Homo sapiens: one gene and its partners. The protein of the gene in region 2 purifies or fractionates together with the protein of the main gene of each other region. This does not show direct contact. Each region holds a gene or a part of one and is shown on either strand. Other genes may lie near its edges.

Evidence for each region.
Region 1: the proteins of NUDCD1 (region 2) and COPB2 purify together in Homo sapiens (affinity purification with mass spectrometry; 2 studies listed by BioGRID and IntAct, with this or other methods). This does not show direct contact.
Region 3: the proteins of NUDCD1 (region 2) and DNAJC9 purify together in Homo sapiens (co-immunoprecipitation; one large-scale study listed by IntAct). This does not show direct contact.
Region 4: the proteins of NUDCD1 (region 2) and PARP12 purify together in Homo sapiens (co-immunoprecipitation; one large-scale study listed by IntAct). This does not show direct contact.

The regions. Positions count from the first base shown.
Region 1 is NC_000003.12:139,375,266-139,380,175, reverse strand, and holds part of COPB2 (coatomer subunit beta'), read left to right. Parts: intron 1-709; coding exon 710-796; intron 797-1,002; coding exon 1,003-1,129; intron 1,130-1,986; coding exon 1,987-2,135; intron 2,136-4,561; coding exon 4,562-4,708; intron 4,709-4,910. UniProt on the Homo sapiens protein: The coatomer is a cytosolic protein complex that binds to dilysine motifs and reversibly associates with Golgi non-clathrin-coated vesicles, which further mediate biosynthetic protein transport from the ER, via the Golgi up to the trans Golgi network.
Region 2 is NC_000008.11:109,288,059-109,292,968, reverse strand, and holds part of NUDCD1 (nudC domain-containing protein 1), read left to right. Parts: intron 1-3,035; coding exon 3,036-3,218; intron 3,219-4,910.
Region 3 is NC_000010.11:73,240,572-73,244,783, forward strand, and holds the end of DNAJC9 (dnaJ homolog subfamily C member 9), read right to left. Parts: intron 3,934-4,212; exon of another isoform or gene 3,359-3,933; coding exon 3,272-3,358; exon of another isoform or gene 2,949-3,271; coding exon 2,829-2,948; 3' UTR 1,383-2,828; downstream 1-1,382. Other genes in the region: primary cilium assembly protein FAM149B1, read left to right, coding at 375-448.
Region 4 is NC_000007.14:140,034,570-140,039,479, forward strand, and holds part of PARP12 (protein mono-ADP-ribosyltransferase PARP12), read right to left. Parts: intron 3,743-4,910; coding exon of another isoform or gene 3,674-3,742; exon of another isoform or gene 3,670-3,673; intron 3,393-3,669; coding exon of another isoform or gene 3,288-3,392; coding exon 3,146-3,287; intron 1-3,145.

The sequences.
Region 1 (4,910 bases), on a different chromosome or scaffold from region 2:
GCTTGGCATGGTGGTGCACACCTGTAATCCCAGCTACTTGGGTAACTGAAGCATGAGAATCACTTGAACCTGGGAGGCGGAGGTCGCAGTGAGCCAAGATTGTGCCACTGTACTGCACTTCAGCCTGGGTGACAGAGTAAGACTGTCTCAAAAAAAAAAAAAAAAAAAAAAAGAAAAGAAAAAAAGAAACTAAGAGCTAATTCATTCAACAAATATTTATTACACACTACTTGTGTGCCAGCCACTGTTCTATCCTCTGCCTATACAGTGTGAAAAATATTCCTGCCTTTGGAGAGCTTAGCAGGAAAGATTGGCACTAAACATAATTATGAGGTGCTACATTATGAAAGGGAAGTACAAGTTTCCATGGGTGGATTTTCAAGTCAGAGACAACAAGAGCAGAGGTGAGGCTGGGAGTAGCCAAAGGTGAGGCTGGAAAAGGGAGGGAAGGGCTGGAGCACAGAGGATCTGGAATACCATCTTGTGGATATTTGCCTTCTCTTATCTTTTAAAAAGTGTTTTAATTTCGAATCTATTAAAAGATAGTTGGTCTTTTTTAAAAATTTGAATGTTGAGCTTTTATATTTTAGCCTGAGAATATACTAAAATGAGAAGTGATCTTAAAAATTGGATGTTTGAAATATAACAGAGTAGATTTTGTGGTTATTTTCTTATAGCTCAATTTGTGTATTCTTGTTACATTTTAAAGACACTGGTGAAGACATTTGAAGTATGTGATCTTCCTGTTCGAGCTGCAAAGTTTGTTGCAAGGAAGAATTGGGTTGTGACAGGAGCGGTAAGTAATTAATATGAATCTCTATTCCCATTTTCTGAATTGGTCAATGATTGTGTAAATTTGTTGCAGGATTTTGATTCCCGATTTGTTTTGTTATTTACAGCAATGTTTTGAGGCATAGACTTTATTCCTTGAGCCTGTGATATAGTTTTTTTGTATAATTTACTTGATAACAGGGATGATGGTTTTAAAATTTCTGTTTCTAGGATGACATGCAGATTAGAGTGTTCAATTACAATACTCTGGAGAGAGTTCATATGTTTGAAGCACACTCAGACTACATTCGCTGTATTGCTGTTCATCCAACCCAGCCTTTCATTCTAACTAGCAGTGGTAAGAGATGACCTTTTTTGGTCATGTGCGTCTCTTTGGGTAATTCATTTTCATTCACTGAGACATGCTATGCTTTAACTGCTGTTACAAATATAATTCTAATTCCAAGCGGCCTTTAAACTATTTAGATCCATTACTGTGCTATTGATGCTGCTTGTGTTTGTACTATAATGAAATATCAACTGTACTTAGGATTTGTGTAATGATTGCTCCAGTTCCTGTCAGAGAAGACCTACAAGTCTAGATGTTTAAACATCTGCTGAACAGAAAGGTCATTTACATGTTGATGAGTGAGTTTTTGGCAGATTGCCATAGACCCTATTCAGTTCAATCTTTATATTCAAACTAGTTTGCTCCTTGGTATTGTGTATAAATAGTAGACCTCTTGGAGGACTGGAAAAAGAGGTAGCACTGAATTAGTAATAGCTCTTTGAAATGTTTTTAAATTAAAAATTGAGAAGTAATTAAAAACTTTTTAAAAACCAATCTTGTGAGGGCAAATGCTTGTTCTCTACATAGTCATTGCTATCACTATTCAGTCATGCTTAGATCTAGTCAAACTTATATTACTCTTTGGCCATTCTTTAATGCCCACTGAATTTTTAAGTTTTTTCACAGAATTTTTATATTTTCTATTTCTAATCTATTTTATTTATTTTATCTCCACTTTTCTGTAGAGAGTTAAATTTATTTTTAAGATAAATAAGCATTTTGAAAACTCTATTTGGTTTTGATTCTATTTCTGTAAGTCATGGATTATATGGTTTGTGTTAGGTTTGCTTCTTCTAAAGACTGTGTCTTAGTTATGAAGTGAAAAAATAGAATTACAACTAACTTGAGACTTTCTTTTGGCCTAGATGACATGCTTATTAAGCTCTGGGACTGGGATAAAAAATGGTCTTGCTCACAAGTGTTTGAAGGACACACCCATTATGTTATGCAGATTGTGATCAACCCCAAAGATAACAATCAGTTTGCCAGTGCCTCTTTGGACAGGACTATCAAGGTAGGGCATCCACATTTTGTGTCAGTTATCATTATTAGTGAACTATACTTGCCTTAGGTGTTTTACTGTTGACTGGTCAGAAATGTACCCATCTTAAAAATTTTCCTCAAAAGCCTGTTTTGAAGTCAAAATAGGATTTCTCATTTTAATCCAAACGACATGTTCTGTTTAGAAAAATATTGTGGCAACTCAGTGCTCTTAATGAGGAGCGTTTTTCTGTGTGGAGGCAGCATGTTATAAAAATTTTTTAGCCTTTGGAAACCCAGAATAAGAAAAATGCCAATATCTTTTTAGGATACTACTGTCCTCTCCTTTTAGTATTCATTGTTGACTTCTGCTCATCGTTTATCTATTTTACATTTAAATTCCATATGCCTCTATTCTCTCTTTCTTACTCCATTTTACCACACTGCTGTCTGTTATCTTTCTGAAACAGTTCCTGATCTAAGGATAAAGTCCAAATGCCTTAGTGTGGAATACAAGGATTTCCAGGACTAGCCTGGGCTAATATTATGCGACATCTCCTAAAACCCTGGTCTACTCACCATCCTCTAGAGAGGCTATGAATGTTCACAAAACCTTACTTCATTGAACTGTTCCATCTTCCTGCACTTCTCTTTATTTTCCTATTTTGATATATTTTCCTCCGGAGAATTACTCAGCTTTTAAGGTTTAGCACAAATATTTACTCTTGAGAACCTCTTGTCAGACATCAACTTCACCTCTAGACAGAGCCAGTTATGCTTATCCCATTTCTTCCATTGCTTTTTGCCTCTGTTTCAGCCTTTCTCAGATTGAATTATTATTACACGTTTTTGGAAATCTTTATCCCCTGAAATACTGGATTTGGGGGATAGAAACTGTGTCACTCCCTTTCCCCAGCCATTCAATAGCAAACAGCAAAGTGCCTTACCTGACCTAGATGCTTAATACATGTTGCAGTGAGGGCAATCATGCTTCTTTTTTTTATCATAATATTTAAAATATTTCCATGCCAGGCACGGTGGCTCACGCCTGTAATCCCAGCACTTTGGGAGACCGAGGCAGGTGGATCACAAGGTCAGGAGATCGAGACCATCCTGGCTAACACGGTGAAACCCCGTCTCTACTAAAAATACAAAAAATTAGCTGGGTGTGGTGGCAGGCGCCTGTAGCCCCATCTACTCGGGAGGCTGAGGCAGGAGAATGGCATGAACCTGGGAGGCAGAGCTTGCAGTGAGCCGAGATTGCGCCACTGCGCTCCAACTTGGGGGACAGAGCGAGACTCCATCTCAAATAAATAAATAAATTAATTAATTAATTAAAATATTTCCATATGCATTGACTTAAAATAAATTAACTTTTGCTTACATGTTTGCTTTCACCTATATAAAACACTGTTAGTAGTTTTCCTTTATGTAAAATGTTATGTGTCTGAATATCTTAGGGTTTTAACCTTAGCTATTTTGCCTTTGATTGGATTATCCTTGCTTTTGACATAGATTAACTTTGAAATTAGTTGTAAACTTTTATTTTTACTAATTTAGGTTTATCTTGAGAACAATAATTGTCTTATCTTCAGTTCCAATAAAGTTTATTTTATACAGTAATTGATAAACATTTGTTACACGTTTATACTCCCCACAGGGCCTCCCATATAATAGGCACTCAATAAATATTTGTAAAGATAAAGCTTAATTCTGTGCTGTGGTAATTTTTAACAATTTTCTACACTTTAAATTGGTAATTAGGCAGTAATTTTCTCCTTTTAATAGGCCTTTATTTTTATTTATTTATTTATGTATTTTTGAGTTACGGTCTGTGTTGCCTAGGCTGGAGTGCAGTGGCATGATCACAGCTCACTGTAACCTCAAACTTCTGGGCTAAAGCGATCCTCCTGCCTCAGCCTCCTGAGTTGTTAGGACTACATGCGTGTGCCTTCATGCCCAGCTAATTTTTTACTTTTTACTTTTTTGTAGAGACAAGGTCTTGCTGTGTTGTCCAGGTTGGTCTTGAGCTCTTGGGCTCAAGTGATAACTTCCATCTCGGCCTCCTAAAGTGCTGGGATTACAGGTGTGAGCCACCACACCCAGCAACTTTTAATATATCTTACTAAATCTACTTTCATGAGCTGTATATTAAATCTATAATAAAATAATTTCATAACATCTAGATTCCTGGGCGTCACTGTGGATTGACTGACTTATAATCTCTAGAGATAAAGCCTGGAAATTGGCACTTCTTTTAAAGAACGCCATAGTGATTTTGCTCCCTGAAAATTCAAGTAAAATGAGAAAGAACAAAAACCAAACAGGATAAAAAATAAAATTTGATAGCTCTTCTCTCCTGGGCTTTGGCATTTTACATAATGTGTCAGAAATATGGTGGATTTGCCTTTTGTAAAGCAAGGCCCCATATTGACTGGCCGATGCTGTTTCTCTCTGCAGGTGTGGCAGTTGGGCTCTTCGTCACCAAACTTCACTTTGGAAGGACATGAGAAAGGCGTGAATTGCATTGATTACTACAGTGGTGGGGACAAGCCATACCTCATTTCAGGTGCAGATGACCGTCTTGTTAAAATATGGGATTATCAGGTACAGTTTTTCATAACCTTACTTCCATATGTTAGATATGTTTCTTACTATTTCTTATAGGACAGTTAAGACTTGGGTTGTTGAAAACTGTTCACAGCATAATAACTTAAGGTATCAGTATTTGCACCTAAACTGTGTTCCCAGAATTCTCCATAAAAATGAAAACAATGCATATCAAGATTTTAAAAATAAAATACCAACA
Region 2 (4,910 bases):
ATAAATATAAATACTTACTTGGAAATGAATGTCTTTATTTCATTAAAGTACAGGTATGATTTCTTTTAAATCTAATTGAACTTCATTATTTGTTTCTACATTTAGGAAAACTGTTACTTTTTCTTACCTGATGTGCTCCCATGTTTAGAATAGTCCTGAACTTTGGTCTGTTTGAAGCTGTCTGTCAAGCTTCTAACTTGACATTAAAAATTACAATCTCATGAATTAATTAGGATTTCTTTAAGGTATTAAGAAATCTCTTTGCCTTTGCTTAGTTCCTGCTGACTCATTGAGTGTTTTCTTTTTAACTGTAGTTGAGTACTGAGAGTGCTTGTTTCCATAATGACTCTATGCTCTTTTTCTCAGTAGTTTTTATTAGCTGACTCATTTATGAGTAAGTTAATATAAATTAAATTATCATTCATCTCTGTAGAAAAATATTTCTTTACCATAGCTGCTAGTTTGCAATTCAGTAAAGACTGTTAGTATTTGTTTCCTAAGAGGGTTTTGCCTTTTATTCTAAAACAGCTATCTGTCTATCTAATAGATATCTCAAAATTGTTTATAAATAAACTGAATAAGTCTCCTAGATTTGTTCTTTGAAGTATTCAATATAATTTATTAGTTCTTTTTGGTGTTGTAGTTTTATCTCTGGAGGAACACAGTAACTTTAAACTTTAATTAGATATTAGAAAACTTTTTTGAAATCCCAGTTGGTAACCATAAGATCTATGTCACAGCTATCCGAGTATGCCAACACAGTACAAAAGCATCCATAGACAATATATAAATGAATGAGTATAGTTGTGTTCCAATCATACTTTATGGACATAGGAATTTGAATTTTATGTTTTTTTGACATATATTTAAATATTATTCTTTAAATATTACTATTTTAACAATTTAAAAATATAAAATTCATGCTTAGCTCACAGGCCATACAAAAATAGGCCTAGATTCAGCTTTGGCTCAAGGGTCCTAGTTTGCAGAACCCCTGCTTTAGATAATGGAAGCCTTAATTTTTTTAAGGTACGTAATTCAAAATCTTACAGGAGACATTGTCATGCATATTCCTCCTCCTTTCTCCAAGACACTTGGTTCTGTAACATCTTTTTCTCAATCTGTGGTAACTCATCAAATTGCCTCAGAACATAGCAGTACTCTGCTCCAGCTCTACTTCTCCATCCCGTTTGTCTTCGTTTCTTTGCCTCAGCTGGACAAATACATTGAGACTAACCTTTTTTCTCCCAAGATTGTAGTTATAGAATCATTAATTCTCTTTATTGTTCCCTTTATCTTTCTTTTATATCTTGTTCCTTCTCTCCCAGACTACTACTAATATGATTGGTTTTTTTCTTCTTTTTCTTTTTAGTTAACAGAACAGTATTTTCGTAAACTATTTTGAATGAAACATTTCATAAAGTATATTTATGGTCAGATAAGTTTGAAAATGTGGACATAAAATAGCTCCATTACACATTAAGCATATTAAAGTTTCTAAAAATTGTGAGTAAAAAAAGTTTAGGTTAGATGCAAAGGCTCATGCCTGTAATCTCAGCACTTTGGGAGGTCAAAGCAGGAGGATCACTTGAGCCCAGGAGTTTGAGACCAGTCTGGGCAACATAGTGAGCCACCGTCTCTACAAAAATTACAGAAACATTAGCTCGGCATGGTGTTGTGCACCTATAGTTCCAGCTATTCAGGAGGATTGCTTGAGCCTGGGAGTTTGAGGCTACAGTGAGCAGTGATCGTGCCACTGCATTTAGCTTGGGCAACAGGGTAAGACCCTGTCTCAAACAAACAAAAAACAATTTACATTTAATTTTAACCTAGCATTTCTCCACATATTTAACCACGGAATCCGGTTTTTGAGGCTTCCTATTCTTTTCTGTCCCATGCATGCTGGGAAAGGCCACGCTATAAATATGTGATGTCGGTGTTTGGATCTTTAAAGTCAAGTAGGACTTTTGGCCCTGCATGTATCTATAGGGGAAGTGTAGGAGTTTTGTTCATTCATTAAATTACAAGCCTGTTCTTAAATATGTGTGAACTGAATGTGTGAATGTAGGTGAGGATTTTGAGTAAAAACAATGAGATATTTTAGAACAGATGGTATTATTATGTAAAAACTCATAATAATATGACATTAAGTTGTGATTTTCGACTACTCAGTATGAAGCCTACAAGTATAACCCACTTAAAGAGTAACAGTATAGGTAAAAGTATGGAGTCAGCTAAAATGTTTGAGTACTTTTTAAAGCAAAAAATTACTGTCTTTATAGGAAAATAAGTTTAATTTGTCAGAAACTTTTGGAATACAGTTAATTGTTTATATCTTAAAAGTAGCACTAATTTATGTTTAATTATAAGCATATAGATAAATGTCTTGTGTAAAAAAAATCATTTCTGCTATAAATTTATTTCATTGTTAAAATGCCCCTTATCGGGAGTTAGAGCAGGCAGAAAAATAGACCACACTGCATGTTTCCCCTTGTCCTCAATTTGTCACTTTTCAGAAGAAACTTATCACATACCTGCTGAGAAGGCAGACAGGCTTTAGTCAAGGAGAGGTAGGTCATACAGAAGCTGTTATTCCAAGTAAGCCGGTCATGTTGGAGTTCTGGGGTACTGCTGTCTAATAAGAGATTTCTCCAAGATGGACATGTTTTATATGTGTACCATTCACTGCAGTAGCTACTAGCCATGTGTGGCTATTGAGCAATTAAAATGTGGCTAGTATGACTGAGGAATTTAAATTTTACTTAATTTTAAGTAGATACTTCTGGCCAGTGACTACCACATTGGACAGGACAATCGGGAACAAATTTCACCAGACCCAATATTTTAAAATAGGGACTTATTTACGGAAAATTAGATTGTAAATTGTTTATCCTTATGAAAAGACTCTTAATAGTGTACCTTTTAATAATACATTCAAATTATTTAATTATAATTAAAATCAATTTTTAAATATCAGAATATTTTGATAATAGTTTTTATTTGTAATGTTTTGTTCTGAAATACTTTTCTTACAGATAATAAAAAATATGAAATTATTAAGCGTGATATTCTCCGTGGAAAGTCAGTGCCACATTATGCTGCTATTGAGCCTGATGGAAATGGTCTAATGATTGTATCCTACAAGTCTTTAACATTTGTTCAGGCTGGTCAAGATCTTGAAGAAAATATGGATGAAGACATATCAGAGAAAATCAAAGGTAATTTTTATTCTTAATAGAGCTTATTGGTATTTTCATAAACATATATTTATGTCTTTTATTTTCCCAGTTAGGTTAATAGTTCTACAAGGGCAAGATAGATGCATAATTTTTTCTTTATTTTCTCATGTATTTTCCAGAAGTCTTTTATAAGGTATACCACCTTAATAGTGTGAATGAACTGGTTTAATTTGATCATTTTGTTATTACCAAAAATGTTTTTTTAAAAAATCGTTTATTAGCTTCCTTGATTAGGTGCTTAATAAATAGTTATCAAATAAATGTCTATTTGCTATTAGTATTGATGGTATTAATAGTGTAATATTGAAGATACTAATTTTTAAAAATAAGTTAAGCTAATGTACCTGTTCTTACCTTTTATACTAAACTGAAAGTAAGTTCCTTGAGGGCAGAATCACATAATTTTATTAATGTTGAATGAATGAATGAAGGTTATGTTTTAGCATGAAAAGACTGGCCAGGCACGGCAGCTCACGCCTGTAATCCCAGCACTTTGGGAGGCCTAGGTGGGCGGATCAAAAGGTCAGGAGATCGAGACCATCCTGGCTGACACGATGAAACCCCGTCTCTACTAAAAATACAAAAAAAAATCCGGATGTGGTGGTGGGTGCCTGTAGTGCCAGCTACTTGGGAGGCTGAGGCAGGAGAATCACTTGAACCCAGGAGGCAGAGGTTGTTGTGAGCCAGGATTGTGCCACTGCACTCCAGCTTGGGCAACAGCGAGACTGTCTCAAAAAAAAAAAAAGAAAAGACTAACAAGAAATTTCAGAAGAAATTTATATTTGTATATAAAGAACAGACATTCTTTTAAAGCTGTTCAAGAGAACATTCCTCTGTAATAATTACTGTTCATATTTCTGATGTTCATAGCCAGAGAATAGTATATTTTATTTAACAGAGATTTTTATAATATTTAACAATTCTACATATTATTCTTTGAATCTCCCTTTTTTGTTAAACAAGTTATTTTAAAAAATTAGTTTTACCTTTTTGTTTTTAAGTGAAAACACGTTGATTAAGAAAGTAAAGAAATAAAAGAATGGCTACTCCATAAGCAGAGCAACCTAGGTTTACTATTTTTGGATGCTTTAAGAAATGAATATTAATGTAATATATAATTGAAAAATATTTTCCACAGGTTTATAAATATATGCACCTCTGAATACAAAAAGTTGTGCTTAGTAGGCCTTTTCTTTAGACTTTTAATACCTTGGTTTTCTCATGTGGGATTCGTTTTTTGTTAGATTATCTCTAAGATCCTTTCCTGAATAAATGTTACTATTCTGTCTAATTATAATGCTAACCTCATCCAAAGCTTAGCCAGAATAGCTGTTTATTTCTCTAGATCATGTGTCTTTAGAATTCCTTTGGTAAGCAATCTCGAGGGAATAGAAAGCTTGCCTTAATCTTTGGAACCGTTCTGCCCAGATAACTTGGAACCATGCAGTTCCAAGACAGATTGAAGCCTAAGTGGGACACATCATGTGTTTAAATCACTACCACAGGTATTGTTTTCCTTGATGACATCTCATGCTGTATCTTGAGTTCCCTCCAAATTCATTGTTTATTTTGTCATAGGATTTTCACAGTAATAAAGGAAAAGTGTTGTAATTTTTAAAAATTATGGGTAGTTTGGTCATTGATTGGCATTTGTAATACTTTCTGAATATT
Region 3 (4,212 bases), on a different chromosome or scaffold from region 2:
TGTGGTGGCAGATGCCTGTAGTCCCAGCTACTCGGGGGACTGAGGCAGGAGAATGAGGTGAACCTGGGAGGCAGAGCTTGCAGTGAGCCGAGATCATGCCACTGCACCTCCAGCCTGGGGGGACAGAGTGAGACTCCACCTCCAAAAAAAAAAAAAAACCTCAGGTATAACTTATGTAACACTGAAGTGGAAGTGAGTAAATCAGACATCTTGCTTCTTTTTAATTAGTGGGCTCTTCTACAAAACTAGTTTACTGCTTTCATACCTTAAGAAAGTCCAATTCATAATTGGAGCAAAAAAGCCCTTAGCTATAAACTTGAGAGTGATTATCAAACCTAGACTGTCTACTAATGTTACTCTATGTCATCTGACAGGTCCTCAGTTACATGGGTCTACAAAATCTCAAAGCGGAGGCAGACCAGTCTCTCGAACCAGGCAGGGACCATAAGGCAAATGAGAAGAATCTATCAGGCTGCAGGAAACACGAGATTTCATGAAGCAGTATTCAGTCATCAAGTGATGCAGAGCTTGTATAGAAGATCGACTAGAAATCATCTTCATGAAGAGTGATTTTGGCACAAGTGACCGAAGAACAAAACACCATAGCAGCCAAAAATGACATGAGTGTTGTTTCTATCTCCAGTTACTGTCTCTTTCAGCAGAAATTAACCTATCCCATTGGAAAGGCAAGTTTGTACCCAAAGATGCAACAGTGAATAATACCCAAATCACTGCTCATGTTATCTCTTAACAATGATCAGTTCAATCATATAGGATTTGATGAGCTCACACATACACAAAAAGCAGCAAATCATCAGTGACAATATCACTGGCTTCAGAATACTTCAGCCTGTGTTCATTTCTGGAGAGTTGTACTCAGTTTTAAGTCATTTTGCTGTTGAAAATCTGACCTCATCAAATAGATGTCATTCCTAAAACTCTCTTTAGATGTCCTACCCTATCAGCAGATTAAAATGGAAGGGGTGTGTAACTAAAAACATAAATGTTAAGCATTAGTATAAAGTAACTTCTGTAATAAATTATATCGCATATTTTTTCAGATAGGACAGCTCAACCTTACGATGCCTACCTGATGCCAGGTGATGCTTATTTTCTTCCTAAAGTAGGTTACTGGTCATATCTTTTTTCCAAATATTAAATGCACCTTGCCAGATATTCTCCTGCAGCTCTAAGGAAAGGAAATCAATTTAAAAATAATTTGTAGAATCTACTATTGAGCCACCAAAGTATAATTCCCTAAAAGTTTAAGAAACCCTGGCAATTAATTCAGCATAAACATATCCTATAAACAGCAGGAGAGGTTCAGCTTTCTGATTTTACTGTGGACCTTTTCCTAAGGGCATTCATGAATGCAGCAACAGTTTTAACTATGGCTTACATTTATTTTAAATTTCACTAAATACAAATCTTGATTGTCATGCCAGTTTTAGATCTTATTAATTTTCAGAATGGATAAATTCAAATAATCATAAATTACGGTAACTTTTTATTATACCAAGGTGTTCTAATGCCATCATATGAAGACAGATGCTTCAAACAACCTGCATTAAATTATATTTTTAATAAAATTAAAATCTATTTTTAACCTATTTGTAGTCACAAACCGAAAACGTGTCGTCTTTACCTTAGAGCTAAAGGCTTACTTTATGCATACGGTATATTTAATAGTCTACAAATCAAAGATTTAAACAGTCCCTTAAAAATTCCATATATTCTCATACCAACTCATCTACATAGAAATGAAAATCTCTATTGTTCTCACAAACCATTACCATGAGTTCACTATAACAACTGGATCAATATGGCTTGCCTTTCAAAGTTAAAGAATCAGAAAGGGGCCTGTAAGAAGTCATTTAGCCCAATTCCCTCACCCTGTGTGTTTTCCCTCAAAGCCAGTGCAATTTTTTTTTAACCAAAAAACTGGACATGTTTAATACATACAGTTTGACAAATTTGGATTTCACTCTTTGTTTTGATGTAGTAACTCTTTTATAAAAGGGAACAGATTCAGACAAGCTCAGTGGCCCAACTGAAGACATTCAGCAATTAATGGCAGGACTTCAGTAATCAGTGGCAGGACTACAACATACATCTCTTCATGCTAGGGAAACCAGGCTCTCTATTATAAAGCTGACCAGGGCTATTGTTTTCCCCTTTTCTCTCATCCTAAACACCATTCATATTTTTCCTAGGTCACATTTTAGTGGGATCATTTACAAAGCCCCCAGAACTTAATCATCATGTTTTACCTTTTTTATTGAATTATATACACCTCTTACAAAAATGCTTGAAGTAATTTAACACCTGTACATCAGTACAAAACCTGGCTGAGTAAAATGAAGAGAGGATCTATTCAAGATCATTAAGACCAAATGTAAACTGGGAAGTATGTGGAAGATAGCTGTCCAGCAAGTGTCTGGAAGGTGTTCTAGCTGGGTAGAGAGCCTATTCTAACAGACACGCACATCGCAGAAAGCAGCATGAACAGAACCACATCCTAGATAAGAGTTCTGTGTACAGAAGATCCATGGAGGCAAGTGCTGTCAGGAAGGACACTGCCTCCCTCCACCCTCCCAAATGTCACCACCAAGTTCCTTCAGGTGAGACCTCACACAATGTCAAGTGCTTTCTAGGAAATACTAAGATCAGGTTGAGAGATTCTGCTTGGTCTAGTCAATCTGAAAAATTCAGGCTGGAAAGACACCTTTTCTCAAGAGCTGAATTGACTTTTGCCTTCAAATCCTGCCTGCACCTTGCCTACGATGGCATCAATTTACACCTAAGGACCTTTGAAGAGAAAAATTCCATTATTTCTTTTCTTTCTTGAGAGCAGATTTTTTCCCTCCTCCTTTGGAAGATTTGCAGTACTTTGCTTCCATCTGAGCCAGAAAATTGTCCATTTCCTTTTGCCGATCCTTTTGTCTGCTCTGTTTGAGAAGTTAAAACACAAGCTTTCACAACATTATCCATAGACAGAAAGTACCTAGTGGTTGCCAGGGGCTGGAAAAGTGGAATAACTACTAATGGGTATGGAGTTTTTTTGGAATGGTGAAAATGTCCTACAATTGGTGTTAATAATTGTAAAACTTTGTAAATACACTTAAAACCACCAAATTGTACACTTTAAAAGGACAAATAGAAGGTATGCGGTTATGTCTTAAAAGAAGAAAACAAAATACAACATTCCAAAGAAAATATTAGCAGTAGGAATCAGATCATTAAAGATGTGGCAACAAACTGCCAAGTTTACCTGAATGGCTGCCTTCAGGCTATCCACGCCTTCATCAAGCCCCAACTCCTTTCTGCTCATTTCTGCTTCTTTGGCCTCTTCCTGAGCCTGAAACAGGAACTCACATGAGACTCAGGGCCACCAGGAAATGCTTAAAATACATACTCTTTCCCAAAAGCAAATCTATAATTCTGTTTCAATTTTATGAATATATGAATAGACAAAATGAATCGAATTACATAACTATGTCATTCATTAAATGGCAACAATGCTGACAGCAAGCAGTAGATCCTCTGATTCCAATTACCATTTGTTTTTTACCCAATTCTATTTGCTAGAGGTAGTAAGTACTCTGGCACTCATAAATCACATGATGATAAAAAGGAACATGAGGCCGGGTATGGTGGCTCACAACTGTAATCCCCATACCTTGGGAGGCCAAGGTGGGAGGATCACTTGAACTCAGGAGTTCAAGACCTGCCTGGGTAACATAGTGAGACCTCAGTTCTATAAAAAAGAAAAGAAATGAGCCTGGTGTGGTGGCATGTGCTTGTAGTCCCAGCTACTAGGGAGGCTGAGGTGGGAAGATGGCTTCAGTCTGAGAGTTCAGGCTGCAATAAGCTGTGATCATGCCTCTGCACTCCAGCCTGGGTGATGGAGATGCCATCTCTTAGAAAAAAGAGAAAAAAAAAAAAAAAAGGCAAATGATGCAATTGCCAGGATACAGGTATTTCCAATTTCTCTCCTGGAAACCCAATTTACTCCATGGGACTGGTGGTGCCTTGTGAACAACCCCAGTTTAAAATGACTTCTCCCCAGTAGTCAGAAGAACCAACATCAATAAACTCAGTTTTAACATCTATTTACCTAATTTCAAAGCAGCCTTCCTTTGCCAAGTGTTCCTAGAGCATTGTTTACAAAATATCACAAGAACACCTTAGGGCAACAACTATAAGAGGCCC
Region 4 (4,910 bases), on a different chromosome or scaffold from region 2:
TTACACATGAGTGCTTTTAAATTGTTCCTTCCAATCTTGTTTAAACCATTATTTTGCTTGGCAATTTTTCCCAGCTTGGATATAAAAAAGCCTCAGCCCAGCCTGAGATCAAACTACCATGTCTTGAGTTAGTGGGATTCAGAGTTAATGTAAGTTTTATGACTTTGTTTTAGTTAAACTATGGCAGTATTCATCAACCTTTCTAAACCAATAATATCTTTAATAAACAAATTTCTTGCTTCCCCACCCTCAAGAATCCCATACTCATCCTGAGGATTTGGGGTTGGGGGAACTGGCCCCTCAAGTTGAAAAATGACAAATACCTAGCAGTGTTTGTTCTGTCCTTGCCTGCCAGGAAAACCCTCTCAAGTCTTACATTTTTTTTAAGAGATGGGGTCTTTTGCTTTGTTGCTCAAGTGGACCTTGAACTCACCAGCTCAAGTAATCCTCCCACCTCAGCCTCCCAAGTAGCTGGGACTACAGGTTTGTGACACCATGCCCAACTAATTTTGTTTTCATTTACAAAACATTTTAATATTAAAAATTATAGGTGTCCAGAATTAGCCTTATTGCAGTTGAGCATAAACTGGATGGTTATCCAAGTGTGTGTCTCTTAGGTTGCAGCTGAGATGGTCACTATTCCTGGAGGTCCATCCACATTCTCATTCAGAGCCCATGATCCAGATGCAGCAACCATGACCCCTTCTGTTACCCACTACTCAGCCGCCCATCAAGACCATTCTCACTGGCATATTTAAATGGGTGTTACTGGCCTACTGGCCATCTGTGATGAATCTTAAATGGCTTTCACTGGTGAAATTAAAAGTGAGCTAAGATACGTGGACTGGCTAAATGTGTGTCAGACACATTCCCTACCCTTCTATGGACACAGTAAAGTGAGGTCTTTTCCCTAATTTACCCTTCCAGAGGATACCCTAGGCTACAGCCTGTCTTTGGGGAATTCTGCCCCGTCAGACACCACCTAACAGGATGCTAGAATTCTGCCTCTGGAATCCTGGCATTTGCCTTGAGTGAATCATTTATGACAAGAGTCCCTAAAAGGGCAGAACTGAATCATCCCTAAACCTTCAGAACAACTCATTTGGGCTCTTTTGTGTGTTTTAAATGTACTTGCTTCCTAATAAACAGCTAATAAATATGTGTGGCAGTTTGCTTTGAGACTTGCTTTATACTTAGAAGTGAAGTTGTGGGGGAAGAAGCCAATTCATCTCAAGCTTCTTTTATGGATACTGGTATCTACCAAAAGAAGGAGGAGGAAGAGGAGGAGGAGGGGGAAGAGGAAGAGGAGGAGGAAGAGGAAGAGGAGGAGGACGAGGAGGAGGACAAGGAGGAGGACAAGGAGGAGGAGGAGGAGGAGGAGGACGAGGAGGAGGAGGAGGACGAGGAGGAGGAGGAGGAGGAGGAGGAGGAGAAGGAGGAGAAGGAGGAGAAGGAGGAGAAGGAGGAGAAGGAGGAGAAGGAGGAGAAGGAGGAGAAGGAGGAGAAGGAGGAGAAGGAGAAGAATTGTGCCCACTCAAATGGGCTTCGGTCAGTCTGCAGGAATCATAAACTGCACGTGTGTGCTCTTCCCCATCCCTATTATGAGGTTCTGTTATGTCCCCAGGGTGTGGCCTAGGTTGGGAATGATCAAGGTAGTATCTGACATTTCTATCTGTTTTGATATTTTCCAGATATTTAAAAGAAATATTCCAGATTGCTGTCAGCAGCAGTCAGATGTATGCTTGCCACACAGTCCTGACCTTCAGGGCAGTCCTGATTTGATTAACGTCTATGCTCTCACTGGTCCCCTCTCATGCACTGGTGTGTGTCAGGCCGTGGAAAGCAAACCAGACCACACGTGGCTGGCGCTCTCCAGCAGAGGCAGTTCGCACTCTAGAGGAGAAAAACTTCACCGTAAAGGGCATGTCAAGGGGGTAGTGATCTACCCTAAGCAAAACCACAAGTGCCACGAAACCACAAGCAAAACCAAGGCCAGAAACAGACAGCCAAAGTGGTTTTAGGATAATTCACCAGACACTTCACTATACTCCACATAGAATAAACGTCTGCAAAAATAAAGAAAACCATAAACTGTGTTTAAAGGAAGGCCCACTTACTCCCTTATAAAATGCTGAACATTCAGAAGGACTCAGAGTTTAAAATGTGAAATACAGGCAAAACGGAACTGAATAAAGCTGGACCGATACACTCATGAGGAAATGGCTTAAGAGAAACTACACAAAATTAAAACTTAAAAAAAAAAAAATTCTCACACATCAGCCACTTGGAGGAACTGGCCAAAGGGTGGCCTATTTCTCTCTGTAAGGCAACCAGGATGAAACATTTCAGCCCCAGCCTCAGGACACCATGAGTGCACGAAAATCTGCTTCTCAGGGACTTTCAATTACTCTGTGTCCTACCATCCGTTAAACCCATCAACTCCAAAGTCGCCTACAGAAAAGATGGCAGCAGGCCAGGCGCGGTGGCTCATGCCTGAAATCCCAGCAAACTGGGAGGCCAAGGTGGGTAGAACGCTTGAGGACAGGAATTCAAGACCAGTCTGGCCAACATGATGAAACCCCGTCTCTATGAAAAATACAAAAAATTAGCCAGGTGTGACGGCTCATGACTGTAATTCCAGCTACTTGGGAGGCTGAAGCACGAGAATCACTTGAACCCGGGAGGCGGAGGTTGCAGTGAGCCAAGATCACGCCATTGCACTCCAGCCTGGGTGACAGAGCGAGACTCCGTCTCAAAAAAAAGATGACAGCAGCACTGCTGCAGCAGGGAGTGAAAGGCAGACACTGCACGACGGAGCTGCTCGGACACCTGTCAGGGACTCAGGTTAGTCCTCGGATACAGCAGGACAACCATGCTACATGCATGCTGACCCTGCTTGTCCTCCACACTTGGGGCTCCTGCCCCTCCTGGGGTCCATTCTCCTCACATCCTTGATGCAGTTCTTCCTCCACTGCACAGGGCCAGTGTCATCTGTCTCCAGGTCTACCTTGGACCTGGTACCTTGCTTTTCTTTCCTGTACCCACCCAGGCCCTCAGTATGTGCACACGGCTCCTCCAGGGTTAAGGTGTAGGGACAGAGCCAACACAGGCAGGCTCTGCTGGGCGAGGGCAGGGCACAGGATACCTTTGAAATCTAACTCGTAGTTGTGCTTTCCGGCCTGGAACTTCAAGGTGGCTGCCTGGCCGTCAGACCCCGGTGTACAGTAGGCCAGGTAGGCCTTCTCCACGTCGCTACTGCTGACAGTGGTCACAGGGTGCACCGTGCCCTGCGATGGAAAGCCAGACACTTTATGAAGGCAAGAAACTGCGTGATGAGGAAAAACGCTGGTGGCACCCACGCCACATTTCAGAGGTGCTCCTGGTGGACAGTCCTGTGGTGGGGAAGATGGAGGCCAGGGAGCATGGTATGGCAGGAGAGAGAGGCACAGAATGGAGGCAACATGACTGTCTCCTGAAGCTGCCCTAGCAAACACAATGCAGTAAATATGGGTCCTGCTGAGCAGGAAGACAGGGATGGGAGCAACGGAGAGGAGGGCACTCAAGTCACCTAGGACAGAGGACACGGCAGCCATTCAAATGCCGGCAGAACAGCAACAGCGACTTCTGGAGTGCTGCTTGACTGGGCAGCCCAAGCCAGGCTGGTCTTACCCGTCTATTCACGTTGCAACCATCCTTTAATCAGAGCTCGGTCCTCTTCCTTGCGGTTTTCTTTTTCTGGTCCCTAGGAGCATTCATCTATTTTTTAAATTATCCATTTCAATCCCTATCCTTCCACAATTACCTACAGGAAATCTCGTAGCTTCAGCTGGAGTGAGTTTGAATTCTGGCTCCCAAACCTGCTGGCTCTATAACTTTGGCAAGTTATCTTAACCTCCCTGAGCCTCCGTTATCTCAAGCTTATAATATGAATAATAGTACTTAGGCCATATTCATCCCTTTATACAACAGGACTATATTGTCCTCACAGGGCTGGAGAAATCATTTAAATAAGGCATGTGGAGCACTTAGTACAGTGCCCAGAACAAAACATACTCAATAAATGTTACTATTATCATCACCGTTCTTATTAAATTTGAGATTACACTGACAACTAAAATTAAAGTTATTCAACCTATAACCAACTAACTCCCTCTGTCCCTGTCAATTTTCCTGCTCCCCCTACTGCTACCATCCTAGTTCTCCTGGGTCACAAGCTTTAGGTGTTACTAACAGAACAAAAGTGAGACAAGACAAGAGTCACCCATGCCTCTGCGCAACTGAGTCCAGCAATGGAGAAGGGGAAAAAAAAGTACCCAGATATTTCAAAGCCTCAAGCACAAGGTCCCACACAGGTCTCACGGGTGCTCTAGACGCTGAGATGGGTAACTAAGAATGACCAAGGAAGGGTGAGACCCAGCAAAGGTTTCTTGGAAGAAAAAGATGCCTGAGCCAAGGCCCAAGCCCGAGGGATGACATGAGTTGGCCCCATGAGGACCATAAGGGGCGGGTGTAAGAGGTATAATGGTTTGTAAAGCAGCCTCCTAGTTTACGGTCTCATAGCGGCGCCTAAGTTTCTCTCTCTGAAGTCTGTCTTCCTTCAAAACCAAGCCATTAGACTAGAGTCCGGGAGGAAGAGGATGTGGCATAAAAATCCCTTTCTGACAACAAGAGGAAAGGAAAAGAAAACAATCCCTCCCCTTTGGGCCTGAGGAAATGAAGCTCTGAGTCAGGGAAACAGAGAGGAGAAGCAGCAGTCAGATGCAGGCGTCCTGCCCCGACCCAGGCCTCCAGTCAAAATCCCTGCAGATGGATGGTCACAGAGGGAGGGAAGATGCAGGTGGATGAGCAGAAAGCAAAAAGCAAAGAGTTTTTTTGCCCTCAGTGGGAGGTTTGGAAGGAGAAACCAACAA